Regions from separate parts of the Homo sapiens genome. Here region 2 is linked to region 1. A link means that fine-mapping ties the variant in region 1 to the expression of a gene that starts in the linked region. Tissue or cell type: breast. Region 1 holds a variant in brackets; the other region holds the start of a gene. All regions are shown on one strand. Distances are between the middles of the regions.

Evidence for each region. PIP is the estimated chance that this variant, and not a neighbour inherited with it, causes the effect.
Region 2: SS18L1 starts here. The variant in region 1 is fine-mapped to the expression of SS18L1 in breast (GTEx, PIP 0.97).

Annotation. Positions count from the first base shown.
Region 1 is chr20:62,192,037-62,200,096 of GRCh38, forward strand. MTG2 (mitochondrial ribosome associated GTPase 2) reads left to right here. Exons shown (of 7, transcript NM_015666.4): 2 at 1,380-1,588; 3 at 3,766-3,913; 4 at 5,816-5,931; 5 at 6,598-6,816; 6 at 7,083-7,221. The coding sequence starts at 1,385. Among named protein-coding and RNA genes, the nearest start is that of MTG2, 13 kb to the left of the region's middle. The variant A/G (reference allele first, on the strand shown) is at 3,839.
Region 2 is chr20:62,140,535-62,148,594 of GRCh38, forward strand. It overlaps SS18L1 (SS18L1 subunit of BAF chromatin remodeling complex), which reads left to right and starts at 3,235. Exons shown (of 11, transcript NM_198935.3): 1 at 3,235-3,355. The coding sequence starts at 3,287. It overlaps PSMA7 (proteasome 20S subunit alpha 7), which reads right to left and starts at 2,860. Exons shown (of 7, transcript NM_002792.4): 1 at 2,674-2,860; 2 at 284-410. The coding sequence starts at 2,769. RefSeq lists silencers at 2,062-2,701, 2,742-3,451, 3,572-3,631, 3,662-3,711.

The DNA.
Region 1 (8,060 bases):
GGTTTTCCACACCAACAATTCGCCAGTCCTCTGCAGACACCAGCCAGGCATCCTGTAATTCAGTTCAGTCTGACCCTGCCGCGGTTATCAGGGACCCCAGCGTTAGGGGCTCAGTCACCCCCCACTTCAGATGCTAATTGCAAGTAGTGGGTCCCTGGGGTACCCACACTTCTGTCCATCTTGGCTACACATTGGGAGTTCCTACGACCCCTTCAGGTTTGATGATTTGCGGTAGTGGCTCACAGAACTCAGGAAGGCACTTGGTTTGCATTGCCAGTTTACTATAAAGGATGCCACAGCGGGCACAGGCAGGCAGCTGGGTGAGGAGGGGCACGGGCGAGGCCCAGAGGGTCCTAAGCATAGGAGCCTTTGTCCCCAGGGAGTTGTGTGGCTGGCCTTACAGCACGGGGATGAGTTCACCAAACTGAAAGCTTTCCAGAGCCCCTAGTTCCAGGATTTCCATGGAGGCCTCATCATGGAGACATGATCAGTTATGAACTCAGCCTCCAGCCCCTCTGCCCTTTTTGGAGGGTGGGGGTGGGGCCGAAAGGTCCAGGCTTCTCATCGTGGCTTGGTCTTTATGATGACCAGCCCCCTCCCAAGGCCATCCAGGAGCCCACCAAGAGGTGCCTCATTAGAACAGAAGACTCTCCTGTCACCTGGGAAGTCCAAGGGATTTAGGAGCTCTGTGTCAGGCACCCCTATCGCCCCTGTCACTCAGGAAATTACCAGCGTTCTGAGAGCTCTGTGTCAGGAGCCAGGAGCAGGGGCCAAGTGTGTTCTTCTCATTCTATCGGTGCCACAGCCAGGGCCGCGGTTGTGCAGCCGTGTGGATCAGCTCAGCCCGTCCTCACCCAGCCGTGTGAGGAGGCCGAGGCCACACAGGTGGATGGCCTTCCCTTAGAGTTACTTTCCAGAGCCTGGGTGCTTAGCCGCTATGCCCCATGTTTAATATTCTTGTGTTCCAATGTAACAACTTTAAAATTACACAGGATAACACTCTTGATAACATTTTAATAAATGGGTGTTTTTCTTTTCAAGAAATTTTGACTTGCACTTCAGATTTCCTTTTTAATATTTTCGTTGAGCGGAACCTTGCTATTCCATAAGAGGATGTGTCCAGTGTTGTGGAAGATTTCATGTTTTAAATCCTTTGTACAGAAATCCTGCTCCCAAGTCACAGATAGGCTGACGGGTCAGAGGGCAAGACGTGACCCAGGGCCGAGAGGGTGAGTGACCAGGAAAATCGGATTCATCAGTTCACTTGTTTGTTTCAGAAACGTGCACAAAGACCTGCTGCATGAGGCCCTCGTCTTCAGTTTCTGTTTCATGCCCAGCATTAAACCAAGTATCTCATTTTGCCAATTTGACTTCTGTAGGGGCCATGGCACCTGCAAGGTGTTTCTCAGCAAGATTGAGGACCGTGTTTCAGGGCGTGGGGCATTGGGCTTTGTCCACATGGGCTGGCCTGAAGCCCAGCCGGCTACTGCCACAGCGGGCTTCTCCCAGGCTGCTCTCGGTCGGCCGTGCGGACCTCGCCAAGCATCAGGAACTCCCGGGGAAGAAGCTGCTCTCTGAGAAAAAGCTGGTGAGACTCCTGGAGTTAGAGCAGCTTGCCTGTCTCCTCCTCAGAAGGCACAGGGTGTGGTTTCGGGTCCTCCTCTGGGTCTCATCTCTGTTGATGTTAGTTGATGATCTTAGTGATGGGGCACGTGGAGCTTCTTGAAAATGACAGGGTGAAACGCAGGCCTGCGTGCTAAATCCCACGCTCAGCAAATCCCAGCAGGCTGGGAGAGGCGCTGCGTGCTTGGAAAGCCGTGATACAGGCTGCTCATTTTCCCATGAGCCTGTGTATTTTACATGTATGTTACATATATCCTTTCATATGTGTGGCTATTTCTTAATTTAAAACAAATGCGGAGGCTGGGCACGGTGGCTCATGCCTGTTATCCCAACACTTTGGGAGGCTAAGGCAGGCGGATCACTTGAGGTCAGGAGTTCGAGACCAGCCTGGCCAACATGGTGAAACCCTGTCTCTACTAAAAAAAAAAAAAAAACCTTTTTAAATTAATAAATAAATAAAAATAAAACAAGTAGGGGGGAATATACCTTCCGTTTTATGGTTCTTTAAGCCTTATAAGTTTTTCTTGTTCTATTTACCAAAACCTCCTATTTAAAGCATGAATTGTCTCTAATAAATTCAAGAAAATGCACGTTTATGACTCCCTTCGTTTCCTGCTGAATGGAGGGGCTCCAGATAAGCATTACTGGGACAAACAGCACTTCCAGTGGAAAAGCCGCTTTGGTGGGATGTGTGCTCAAATAGCTGAAGCGTTAGCACAGGCTTGTCTCCTCCCCAGGAGAGAAAGTGAGTCGAGGTTTTGTCCTCCACGAAGTGCTCACCAGTGGGGCTTTCCTCCCTGTCTGGTGGATTTTGCTTGCGTTGGCGCATGACAGCATTACACATTGAAATTTGGAAATAACAGTTCGTGGTTTTCCCACATGGTGGTGCCAAAGAATCTTAGAATGTTTGTGTTTTAAATTTTTAAATTTTTTTTTGTGTTTAAATTTTTGTGTTTAAAAATTTTAAATGTTTTAAAATTTTCTTTTAAAAGAAAAAAAAACTGCATTTGAGGAGTATTGGATCGGAGTGCAGAGGCAGCAGCCCTGGGTGGCTGTCAGGGGCAGGGCACGTCTGTCTGTGCACGTGGGCAGAAGCCAGGTGTCCTCCCCAGCGTGTGGTGAGGTTGCAGCACCCTGGGCTGCGGGAGCTGACCCTCCTGTGGTAGGAGCTGTTGTGTGTTGAACAGTAACCTGGTTGGTTCTCTCTCTTCATCCAGATTGCACCTACCTTAGTGACCTACAGAACAGCTTTCCTAGCCGGGCACAGTGGCTCACGCCTGTAGTCCCAGCACTTTGGGAGGCCGAGGCGGGTGGATCACGAGGTCAGGAGATCGAGACCATCCTGGCCAACACGGTGAAACCCCGTCTCTACTAAAAATACAAAAAACTAGCCGGGCGCAGTGGCGGGTGCCTGTAGTCCCAGCTACTTAGGAGGCTGAGGCAGGAGAATGGCATGAACCTGGGAGGCAGAGCTTGCAGTGAGCCGAGATCCCACCGTTGCACTCCAGCCTGGGCGACAGAGCGAGACTCTGCCTCAAAAAAAACCACAAAAAACAAAACAGCTTTCCCTCCAGCGAGGGGCTCTGTTTGCCTCACCACATTTTTTAAATGAGCCCTGTTTTCATCAGGCCCCAGAAAATACTCTTTCTTCAGAGTCGAAAGCCTGGTAATTGTCCAGGAACGATTCTAACTTCCTATTTCTCTATCGCATCCTGGGAAACTAGAACTTTCTAAGAGTAAAGATCTATGATTTCAGGAATGGTTTTTTTGAATGGAAAGACACATTATATAAGGAATATTTCCTAAACAAGATGTGGGTTTTTTAGCTTAGAAATGCTGATTTTTGTTGTTGGTTTTTAAATCAGTCTCACCCAGAGTAAGAAATGCTGAATTTTTGAAGTGTAGGTCCACACAGAATACTTACATCTGCATTGTGGATTTACCTCAGTCTACAAATGCAACTGACTTGTGGAGACTGTTTTTTATCTTCGGAATTTAGAAGTGATTAGCAATATTAGTGTCATTAACCTCTAATTTTAATAGGCTGTTATAGATAGAAGATGTACATCTCAAATGGATGCATGGTGTCTTGAAAGGACCTTGGAGTGTTGAGATGACGTGGGATATTTGTGTTCTCTGTAGAAAAGGTACTTTGTGGACTATCGGAGAGTGCTTGTCTGTGGAGGAAACGGAGGCGCTGGGGCAAGCTGCTTCC[A/G]CAGTGAGCCCCGCAAGGAGTTTGGAGGCCCTGATGGAGGGGACGGAGGCAACGGTGGACACGTCATTCTGAGAGGCAGGTGCCCTGGGGCAGTGCAGCGGGGTTGAGGAGGGGCCCCGAGACTGCATGTGCATTTGAACTAAAAACCTGATGTATGGGCAGGCACAGTGGCTTATGCCTGTGATCCCAGCACTTGGAGAGGCTGAGGCAGGAGGATCACTTGAGCCCATAAGTTCAAGACCAGCCTGGACAATATAGCAAGACCATGTCTTTTTTGTTTGTTTGTTTTTTTGTTTTTTTTTTTTTGCCTCAAGGTTTGTGGATCTACAAAAAATTTTTGAAAAAATTAGCCAGACATGGTAGCGTGCACCTGTGGTCCCAGCTACTCAGGAGGATTGCTGGATCCCAGAAGTTCAAGGCTGCAGTGAATCGTGATCACACCACTGCATATTCCAGCATGGGTGACAGAGCAATACCCTATCTCTAAAAAAAAAAAAAGTAAAATTTTTAAAACCCAGCTAGGCGCAGTGGCTCATGCCTGTAATCCCAGAACTTTGGGAGACCGAGGCGGGTGGATCGCTTGAGGTCCGGAGTTCGAGACCAGCCTGGCCAACGTGGTGAAATCCTGTCTCTTAAAAAATAATAATAATAACCAGATGTGGTGGCACACACTGATAGTCCCAGCTACTTGGGGCTGAAGCAGGAGGATGGCTTGAGCCCAGGAGGTCGAGGTTGCAGTGAGCTCCGATTGTGCTGCTGCACTCCAGCCTGGCCAACAGAGGAAGACCCTATCTCAAAAAAACAAAACAAAACAAACAAACAAAAAAAACCCTGATGTATGGATATCATTTTTATAAATTATATGGATATTCAGCCGGGCGTGGTGGCTCACACCTGTAATCCCAGCACTTTGGGAGACCGAGGCGGGTGGATCGCTTAAGGTCAGGAGTTCGAGACCAGCCTGGCCAACATGGTGAAACCCCGTCTCTACAAAAAATACAAAAAAAATTAGCTGGGCGTGGTGGTGGGCACTTGTAATCCCAGCTACTAGGGAGGCTGAGGCAGGAGAATTGCTTGAATCCAGGAGGCAGAGGTTGCGGTGAGCTGAGATCGTGCCATTGCACTCTAGCCTCGGCAACAAGAGTGAAACTCCGTCTCAAAAAAATAAAAACATAAAACATAAAAAAAAAATTATATGGATATTCATAGTTAAGTAGCACACCCAAAAAAGCAACTTTGAGGCCAGGCGCAGTGGCTCATGCCTATAATTCCAGCACTTTGGGAGGCCAAGGCGAGTGGATCACCTGAGGTCAGGAGTTCAAGACCAGCCTGGCCAATATGGAGAAACCCCATCTCTACTAAAAATAGAAAAATTAGCCAGGCGTGGTGGCAGATGCCTGTAATCCCAGCTATTTGGGAGGCTGAGGCACGAGAATTGCTTGAGCCCAGGACACAGATGTTGCAGTGAGCCAAGATCATGCCACTGCACTCCTGCCTGGCTGACAGAGCGAGACTCTGTCTAAAAAAAAAAAGAAAAAGCAACTTTGAACATGTTTTGTTTTGTTTGTTTAATTTCAGGAGCACAGAGAGTTTCCTGTCAGGGAAGCTGACATGTCGGTCGCGTGAAAGCACGAGGCCTGTGTGGTGGGTTCGGTGGGTGCCGCTGGCTGCTGGTTATATTCACACTCAGCATAGACGCATAGCGAGCTGGGAGTGAAGCCTTCACAACAAAAGCATAGAATACAGCTACTGTAAAAAATAAGAAATTTAAAAATTTTCAGAAATGATAGCACTTTTTGAAGGAAAATAAGGATTTCATTTTTAAAAAATCACTTTGCTGGTTTTGTAACTTCTGCTGCACCCTCACTCCATGCTTCCATACCTATTTTTAAGGTTCTTAAACTGGACCCAGACACATCAGCAATAGGCCATGGTTGTCGTAACACAAAGGGACTGAGATTCTTGTTCTTGCTTTAGTTGACCAGCAAGTCAAGTCCCTGTCGTCGGTCCTGTCGCGGTACCAGGGTTTCAGTGGAGAAGATGGAGGGAGTAAAAACTGCTTCGGGCGCAGTGGCGCCGTCCTCTACATCCGGGTGAGCCGAGACTGCCGGACCTGGCCCTGTCCCCGTTGTTCTGGATCATCCAGCTCCTGGGGGCCACCGTGTGACCCACGGGGCCCCTGTGGCTTGATGCCCACAGCTAGGAAACAGCACAATGGAAACGGAGGCTGGCAGACAGCGGGAAAGCAGCCCCACCCCTCAAAGCAAACCCAGACGGGCATTTGTACCAGGGTCTCACACCATGTGCATGTCTAGTGAAAAAGTCATGAAACGATTCTCTTTTAAAAAGAGGGAGCCCACGGCACGGACGCTTCCTCCGTCTCTGACCCCATGAGCCGACCTCTGACTGAGGGAGGCCACTGGCACCCAGCGGGCCTGCGTCTCCTTCGCGAGCTGAATTCACTCGTCTCTTAGATGTTTTTTCTGGTGCTTCAGTTCACACTAACGTTTTAGAAACACTATTTGAAAAAGCCCTTTGTGCAGTCAGAAGGGTGTGTACGCAGCCCCGTGAAAGCCCTGGAGCACTGGGACCTTTTCCTTGTGCTCCGGAGCTGTTGGCAGAGGTGAGTGGGGCGGGCAGCTGCCCGGGGCACAGTCCGCTCTTGTCTTCTTTCCTTAGCGCTTGCTTCAGGAATGGGTTAAGGCCTCCTTTCCTCACTGCTGGTAGAGCTCAGCTGATGAGTGCCTGCTGTTCCCCAGGTCCCCGTGGGCACGCTGGTGAAGGAGGGAGGCAGAGTTGTGGCCGACCTGTCTTGCGTGGGAGATGAGTACATTGCCGCGCTGGGCGGGGCAGGAGGGAAAGGCAACCGCTTCTTCCTGGCCAACAACAACCGTGCCCCTGTGACCTGTACCCCTGGACAGCCAGGACAGCAGCGAGTTCTCCACCTGGAGCTCAAGACGGTGGCCCACGCCGGAATGGTAGGTGTCCCCACTGCCAACAGCATCTGCACACACTCAGCTCTAGAAAATCCACTTTTCTCAATGGGGATTTGCCAGTGGCCTGGAAGAGAACAGCTTTGCGACTCACCTTTTTCCCATCAGTACACTGCTGACTTGGTCGTGAGCATGAGCCCTTGTGACTCCCCCAGCCCTGAAATCCTCCCTCCAATCCCAGTTAGTTACAGACTCTGCGCTAACAAAGGTGCTGCCGCGGGCCGTGCCACCGTCTTCCCTCTTTCCCCCAGGTGGGATTCCCCAACGCCGGGAAGTCCTCACTGCTCCGGGCCATTTCAAACGCCAGACCCGCCGTGGCTTCCTACCCGTTCACCACCCTGAAGCCCCACGTCGGGATCGTCCACTACGAAGGCCACCTACAAATAGCAGGTAGAACTTCCAGAATTCTCCCAAAGGTTAGATTTAAATGATGTAATTCAGAAAAGTAATGATGTAACTCTTAAATTTAGCTTTCTGTTTAAAATGTAGCATTGTTGGCCAGGCGTGGTGGCTCACACCTGTAACCCCAGCACTTTGGGAGGCCGAGGCAGGCGGATCACGAGGTCAGGAGATCGACACCATCCTGGCTAACATGGTGAAACCCCGTCTCTACTAAAAATACAAAAAAATTAGCTGGGTGTGGTGGCGGGCACCTGTAGTCCCAGCTACTTGGGAGGCTGAGGATGGAGAATGGCATGAACCCAGAAGGCAAAGCTTGCAGTGAGCCGAGATCATGCCACTGCACTCCAGCCTGGGCGACAGAGCGAAACTCCATCTCAAAAAAAAAAAAAAAAAAGTAGCATTGTTTTTCCTAATGTAAACAACTTTTTTTTTTTTTTTTTTTTGAGACGGAGTCTCACTCTGTCACCCTGGCTGGAGTGCAGTGGTGCGATCTCAGCTCACTGCAACCTCCACCTCCCATATTTAAGTGATTCTCCTGCCTCAGCCTCCCAAGTAGCTGGGATTACAGGCGTGCGCCACCACGCCCAGTTAATTTTTTTGTATTTTTAGTAGAGACGGGGTTTCACCATGTTGGCCAGGCTGGTCTCGAACTCCTGATCTCAAGTGATCTGCCCCCCGCCCCACCTTGGTCTCCCAAAGTGTTGGGATTACAGGCGTGAGCTACTGCACCTGGCCCTAATTTAAACAATTTTCATCAGCCTGTTCTCTATGAAAATCAGGTTCCCACCCCATCCCCTAGGAATCTGTCAGTTACAGTTCAGAAACCT
Region 2 (8,060 bases), 52 kb before region 1:
TCTAGATTGTAACTGATTGATACAGAAAAATAACAGTGGAGGTCAAATTGCGCAGCAGCCAGAAGTGTTTTCATCCATTTAGCCATTTGTTTCACCTGCTATGGCAGAGAGAGGCCACCAAAGAAACTAGCCAACTTAAAAGTCCAAATCCAATTCTTTTAAATGATTTTCATTTACTCAGTTTATATGGCTCACAATAGCCCACACACCCAAGTTAATCTCCAAAGCCCTATTCTTCGCTGAGACTCTAGAGAGTAAGACAGCGCTCCCCACCGACTCATACCTGCAAAGGCCATGCAGACGTTGTCATCCAAAGCACAGATCTTCCGCACTGTTCTTTCATCCTGCAGTTTGGCCACTGACTTCTTCTCCACACCAAGAACAACAATGTCTCTTCCTCGAACACCAACCTTTAATTAAGATCCACAAACCACGTAAGAAAGTGATATGAGTGCTGGGTGCAGTGGCTCATGCCTGTTAATTCCAGCACTTTGGGAGGCTGAGGTGGGTGGATGACTTAAATTCAAGAGTTCAAGACCAGCCGGACAACATGGGAAAACCCTGTCTCTACAAAAAGTACAAAAATTAGCCAGGTGTGGTGGCTGAAGCCTGTAGTCCCAGCTACTGTGGGGGCTGGTGGGAGGATCGCTAGAGCCTGGAAGGTGGAGGCTGCAGTGAGCCATGACGGCTGGGAGACAGAGACAGCAAGACCCTGTCCCCTCACCCCACCCTATCCTCCCAAAAAAGTGATACATGGTTCTACTGCCAGGCAGCGAGCAGTAGGAGCAGATCTGAACCTGGGTCCTGGGGGGTACGTACTCCGGGTAGCAGCTCCCACTGGAAGGTGCGTTCACCCACACCCCTTTCTCCTCTACTTGTCTGTCACTGTGGCTGGCACCACATCCTGCAAACCCAGGGGTATTCATCTACTGCTGGTAGAGCTAGCCCAGGCGTGCTCACCTAGGTGCCCAACCTGGGCCTTTCAAATACTGAGATGTAGTTTTAGTTACAACATAGCTAGTAAGTAACCATTATATAATCGGCATGTGTTTCCTTTCAACCCAATGAATCAGTCCCATGCAAAGCCTGGAAGCCTGAGACTTTCACTCAAGTCTGGTGTTCTGAAGGCAGTGTTTCTGTAGTTGTGAAATTATATTGAGCCACAATGCACTGTTTCCTGCACTGTGACATACTCATGTGACAGCCATGAGAAGGGGCCTGATTTGCCGTCAGTGGACAAGGTGTCAAGTGTTATCCCAAACTGTTTATGGCTGATGCTGGAGAAGGATATGGCTGTTATTAAAAGCATGAACAATCACTGACAGTCAACCCGAGTCAAGCCAGAAACAAAGGGAACCATCATTGGGATAAACAGCGCCTCCTGGTTTAGAGCAGGGCTTCTCCAGCTCAGCACTGTGAGCACCTGGGCAGGGGGATCTCCCTGTGCCTGCCGCCCTGAGCACGGGTGGGATATTGAGCAGCGTCCCTGGCCTCTACCCTCCAAATGCCAAGAGCACCTCTGCAAGGTCTTACCACTGGAAAAGTCTCCACACACTGCCAGTGGCTCCGTGTGGGCCCAAAACCATCCCTGGCTGAGAAGTATTGATCTGAAGTGTTTGGGTTTTCTGGGAGCTTTCTCAGGTACTGACTCACTTGACCTTCGACTGACTCGAGGCCCAGAGAAGCTATATGGGTTCGTTAAAGCCAGCGGCGGCCAGCTGGCGGGGGTGGCAGTATTGGGGTGGGTACAGGGGTCAGCCGACTCCTAGTCCTCTTTAAGCTGAGTTAGATCACCTGATGAATACTGGGCCTTCATTTCAAAACAAAGATTCAGAAAATGAAAACAAATCAAAATTTACAGAACCGTGTGTGCTGCTTTCTCTGCCTGCTCAAACCTCTGAATACCAGATGATAAAAGAATAACGATCTCACAGACTGACCAATTAAACTGACACGTCTTGATGGTACGAATTTAAGTTTCAAACAATGTCACTAAGGTCAATGTACACGAGCCCTCGTCAAAACGAAACGGCCGCGTCCAAACCAGTCCTGACCCGGGCGGCTGCAGCCCGGCCCCGGGAAGGCTCCTCCCGGCAGAGTGCGGAGACCTGGGAGGCGCCCGCCACCGGCCAGGCCAGCGAGCCGCTTTGTTCTCGAAGCCCACCTGGGCCTAGAGAATAAGTGTTGCCCCGGAGCGGGTGGGGGTCCCCATAAGGGGGGTTTGAGTAGTTCGCTCCCCAGCCACCCGGCTGCGTGAACAGCCCCCCAGCGAGCGCACGGCCTACCCCCCGCGCTCCGCGGCCCAGAGCGGCCCTCGCCCGGCCTCTGCTCGCCGGGGCGGCGGCGCGACCCACGCGCCCGGCCGGGGCCAGGGGTGCTCAAGATGGCGTCGTCACGGCCCCCGTGCCCGGGGCCCCACGCGAGGCCGGGCCCCAAGCGAGGCGCTGAGTGGGGAGAACGAGCGCTCGCGGCTCACGCCAAACGCCGCCTCTGCAGGCACTCGTGGAGACCGGCAGCGGGGCCCGCGCTCAGCTACAGCCCTGACCGCCCGCGCCGCTGCCCCGCGCACGCCCGCGGGCGCCCACAGCGCCGCGCCCGGCCCCGGCCCTCTCTGGGCTCCCCAGCCCCACTTCCGCCCGCGTCCCCGGCCCCGCGCAGGCCCCGCCGCCTCACCGCGGTCGAGCCCTTCTTGACGGCCTCCTGCGCGTACTCCACTTGGAAGAGGTGGCCGTCGGGCGAGAAGACGGTGATGGCGCGGTCGTAGCTCATGCCGGCGGGCGGCGGCCGGGCTCCTTCCGCCGCGACTCTCAAAAGCGCACACTCACGGCCCGCGCGCACCCGCGACTCCCGGCGCCACTACGCCCGCGCCCCACCCTCGGCGCCGTGTCCTGCGCTGCCGGCGACGGGCGGCGTCAGGCGGCGACGGGCAGCGTCAGGCGGCGTCGGGCGGACGTGATGGCGCGCGCCGGGGCGGGGTCAGGCCGAACCACCGGTGGCCGGGGGTGGGAGGCGGTGCTCCGGCGAGGGCCGGGCGCTGGGTGCGAGGGGGTCGCCGGGGGCCACCGTTCGGCACTGGGCCGCAGACCGTTCTGCAGGGCGGAGCGGCGGCGCCGCGGGCCCGGAGGCGCGGCGACGGCGACGGGGCGGACGAGCCCACGACGCGGCGCCCCCCGCGCTCCCGCCCCCTTCCCCCCCTCCGCGACTGCGGATAATGAGCGCCTCGGGCCGCCCAGCGCAGCCGGAGTATCCACCTCGATGACCACGGGCTGAGCCCCGCGCCGCCACCATGTCCGTGGCCTTCGCGTCTGCCCGGCCAAGAGGCAAAGGGGAGGTTACGCAGCAAACCATCCAGAAGGTGGGCCGGGCCGGAGCGGCGGCGCTGGGCGGCGGGTCTGCGGGCGGGCGCGCGCGGGGACGGGGCGCGGGCAGCTGGCGGGCGCGGGGCGCGAACAAAGCCGGGGCGCAGCCGGGCGGCCGCGAGCCCCGACGGCGGCCCCGTGCCCTTCCCCGCGTCCCACGCCTGCGCGCCGGCGGGCACCCGGCCGTGTGGGGGGCGGTCCCCGGAGAGCCTGCGCCAACTTTGTTGGGGCGCGCGGGTCCCTCGGGCCGGGGCACTGGGCGGTGGGGGCCGGGCGGACGCTGGAGGCTGCCGGCCCCCGAGCGCGCTGTCCCCCGAGTCCGCGGCGCGCGCTGGGAACTGTCCTGGGCTATGCCGGGCGCACGGGGACCCCTCGGGGCCGGAGCCGCGGCGAGGGCTTGTCGCGCTCCGCAGCCAGCTTCGGTGGCGACGGCGGGCGGTACTCGTTTTCTGCGCTCATTTTGGTTAGTGGTGAGGGGCCCGGGTCGGCCTCCGGGCGCACTTGCGACCGCGGGGACTGTGGCCGGGGCTGCCCCTCTTGCTCCTGGAGCGAGGCGCGAACGATGGAGGCACGGAAGGACGCGTCCCGATCCCCATTTGCGGGGCATCGTTACGCAGCCCGGCCCCGTAGGGAGCGCACCGCCCCCTCCGTATCCTCGCGGCTACGCCGGGTTTCAGCGTGACACCCTCGCCAGCCGCCTCGCCTAACAAACTTGACGGATTTGCTCCACAACCTTTCTTCTAGCTCCGTAAGTTCGGCCTTGTGGTTTTCAAGAGACAGCGTTTATGTGGGTTTGGGACACCGTTATCCAAAGCCCTAAGTTTTGAAATTGAGACTTTGTATTTTCTGCTGTTTTTTCTGTAGAAGACAGATTCGGAAGAAAATCAGCATTAGCCATACCCGTTTCAGTTGTCACAACATCTGTTGGAATGACATTGGTTTTTTTTCCTAAACTCTGACTCCGTCTTCACCCTGGTGGGATTGCAGGGATAAACAGTGGTATTCCTAGGTTCCCAGGAGCCGCTTGTCTCCCTAAGGGGGTTCACCTTGACCTTGACTGAGGCTGTTATTCCTTGATGACGTGCCAGTCTCCTGTGGAAGTTGTCCTAAATCTATCGCCTATTTTGAGACTACCTTTGCTGTTGCTAGTTTTAGAAATTTGATGGTCTTAACAAATGAGAACCTTGGCCAACTCTGAACAGGAGAGATTGAGAATAGCAGAAATACAGATTTACAAGTGTGGCATTTTAATTTACTTAGTAAACACTTATGTGGCGCTTACCGTATCCCAGACACTGTTCTAGGGGTTTTATAAATCTTGATTCATCCAATTCTTCATAGAAGCTACTGGCATCCCGTTTAATAGCTAAAGAGGCTGCGGCCTAGGGAGGCCGTGCCTTGCTGGTAAGTGGACACTGAGGCCTAGGGGGGCTAAATGCCTTGCTGGTAAGTGGCACAGCCAGGTGTCGATCCCATACGGTGGCTCCAGGGTCTGCTCTGTTGGTGCCCCTTGATCTGGGAACATTTGGCCAGGCGGAGGTCAAGCTCTAGGCTCAGAGGCAAATGTTGGAACCCAGAGCATCTCCTGGCACTCTGGTTTTTTGGAGCTTAACAGTCATTGTTCCTGAAGCTACCTTTGGCTGCAACGTTTATCCCATTATTTGCACTTCGCACACAGTTCCATTGAAGCTCCCCAAATTCTCCAGGTAAAAGTGTGTATTGAGGTGCTGCCCCGAACATCAGATCAGAAAGGAAGAAATGCACCTGTGGACCGTGGGTCCCTGGGCAGAAACTCAGCCTGCTGACCATTGGAAATAGGCCTTCAGTTTAGGCTGCTGACTTGGCTTGGTAGGGCCAGCAGTCTGCGTATTGGGCTTGGTGTTTTGACGGTGAATATATGTACCCAGGGATCTTTTACTGGGAGGTGTGAGAAGGCTGAGAAAGGTGTGAGAGGTGTATGTTCTATGCCTCAGACGTGTGCTGTGTCCACAGTGTGTGCTGGTAGTGTCATGCCGAGAGCTTTAAGAGAAGCCAGGGACCCCTCTGAAGCCTGCGTGGTAGTGAAGGAGAAGGAAGTCTACAACTTGTCCTTACAGCATTCTGCGTGGTAGCGAAGGAGAAAGAGGTCTACAACTTGTCCTTACAGCATTCTGCGTGGTAGTGAAGGAGAAGGAGGTCTACAACTTGTCCTTACAGCATTCTGCTTGGTAGTGAAGGAGAAAGAGGTCTACACCTTGTCCTTACAGCATTCTGTGTGGGTGGAGATCTTCCAGGCCAACTTCTACTCAACCTTCAAAGCCTCACTCACGTGTTCCGCGTCTCATGCTCCGTCGGCAGTCATGTGGCCCTTGTAGCACTTGCTTGAGCTCCTGAGTTTGGCATGTGACTGATTATTCTTTGCTGATCCCCAGCCTCTCATAGTGTCTGAGCACAGTTAGTGCTGAGCACGTGCTGGATCATCTGTGACGCTGGTCCCATCAGTGGAAGCGTTTTGAGATAAGCAGATGCGTTCGTGTCCTGTGACTTCCTTGACACATTCCCACAACCCAGGTGGCTTCAAACAACAGAAATCTATTCCCTCACAGTTCTGGAGACCAGAAGTCCCAAGTCCAGGGGTCAGTTACCTGCTCTTCTCCTGGCTTCTGATGACTGCGGGCAGCCCTTGGTGTTCTCTGGCTTGTAGGTGCATCCAGCGTGTCTCTGCTTTGATCATTTTTTTTTTTTTTTTTTTTTGAGATGGAGTTTCGCTCTTGTTGCCCAGGCTAGAGTGCAGTGGCGCGATCTCGGGCTCACAACCTCCGCGCCCCCGCCCACGTTCAAGGTTCAAGCGATTCTCCTGCCTCAGCCTCCTGAGTAGCTGGGATTATAGGCGCGTGCCACCACGCCCGGCTAATTTTGTATTTTTAGTAGAGACGGAGTTTCTCTGTGTTGGCCAGGCTGGTCTTGAACTCCCGACCCCAAGTGATCTGCCCCCTCCCCCCCTTAGCCTCCCAAAGTGCTGGGATTACAGGCATGAGCCACCATGCCTGGCCTCAATTTCCCACTTTTTATAAGGACTCTAGTCACTGGTTTTAGGGCCTACCTTAATCCAGCATGACCCCGTCTTTATTTCATTTTCAAATACCTCATTTCCAGTACCTCCCATGCGCAGGCACCAGGGGTCTGGGTACAGTTTAGCCCACGAGAGTGCGTTTGTGGTGAGGGCTATCCCAGAGAAAGAGAACCATGGGGCAGGGGCAGGGAGTCACAGAGGGTCCCGAGCCTGGCCTGCATGGAGCAGGTATTGGGGGACCTAAAGTGGAAGGGCAGGGGGTGCTGGGCTGATGTGGGGAGGGTAGCTGGTGGTGACCAGGCAGCAGTGTGTGGGTGAGACAGTCAGAACTGCTCTGTGGCAAGCACCACAGAGGACATGACTGTGCTGGGGAACCCTGCGGTGGGGCTGGGCCATGTCCCCACGGTGGCCCTGGGCCTGGCTGGGTGTTCTCTAGCCACCAGCTGGGGACTGTAGTGTTCTGTTGTCCAGTGCGTGCTCCTTACGCTGCTGTTGGGGCTGGGCCTGCAGTGGTCACCTCGGACCATGTGGCCAGGCTTGAAGGGGACCCCTGAGTTGCCTCTTTGCTGCTTGGCATGCAGTAATTGCTCAATAAATGTGTTACTGTTTCTGTTTGTATTGGTTTTCTCATTGGTTTCCTTGGCCGGATAATAGCAGTGGTGTCTGCCTGTCTGCTGGGTGTCTGGATCCCCAGCACCTGTTGCGGGGCAGGGTTGGGGAAAGGCTCTGAGGGAATGGGATGGAGCTGAGAGGAGGTGGGCCCCTGGGGCCGCCTGCTGGGTGGGTTTGGTGTGGGAAGACAAGACCTTCGTGGGGTGGGTTAGTGCCGTGCCCAGGGTCCGAGAGCCAGGGAGTTGTTGAAGCTGGACCAGCCCTACCCCATGTCCTTGGTACCCAGGTGCGGGGGTGGGGCATGGGCAAGGGGCGCACTTCTGGGTGGGGATGGGCTGCGGAGGATGGGGTGCACACCCAGTAGGCAGTGGGCACCCTGTGTGCTCCCTCAGAAGTGGAACTTGCTGTCTGAAGGAACGCAAGCTAATTTGGCTAGGAGTGTTTGTAAGGTTAAAGCTGTCCAGTGACTGAATGGCTTGGGGATGCCGAGCCTCCCTTGCATGTGGCTGATTGACAGCGTTCCTCCTGCGATCAGAGGCTCCCCCCACCCGAGAAGGGGAGCATGGGGGCCTGTCTTTACATCCGCAGGGATAGGGGGGTTGGGTCCCCTCATTCCGGAGCCTGGGCTCAGCCCCGGGGAGGGACCCCGCAGCCACCGGCCTTGCTCGGCCTCCTTGCTGTCTTAGGTCAGGTGAGGGAGGCTCGGCCTCCTTGCTGTCTTAGGTCAGGTGAGGGAGGCTTGGCCTCCTTGCTGTCTTAGGTGAGGGAGGCTTGGCCTCCTTGCTCTCTTCGGTCAGGTGAGGGAGGCTCGGCCTCCTTGCTGTCTTAGGTCAGGTGAGGGAGGCTCGGCCTCCTTGCTGTCTTAGGTCAGGTGAGGGAGGCTTGGCCTCCTTGCTGTCTTAGGTGAGGGAGGCTTGGCCTCCTTGCTCTCTTCGGTCAGGTGAGGGAGGCTCGGCCTCCTTGCTGTCTTCGGTCAGGTGAGGGAGGCTCGGCCTCCTTGCTGTCTTAGGTGAGGGAGGCTCAGCCTCCTTGCTGTC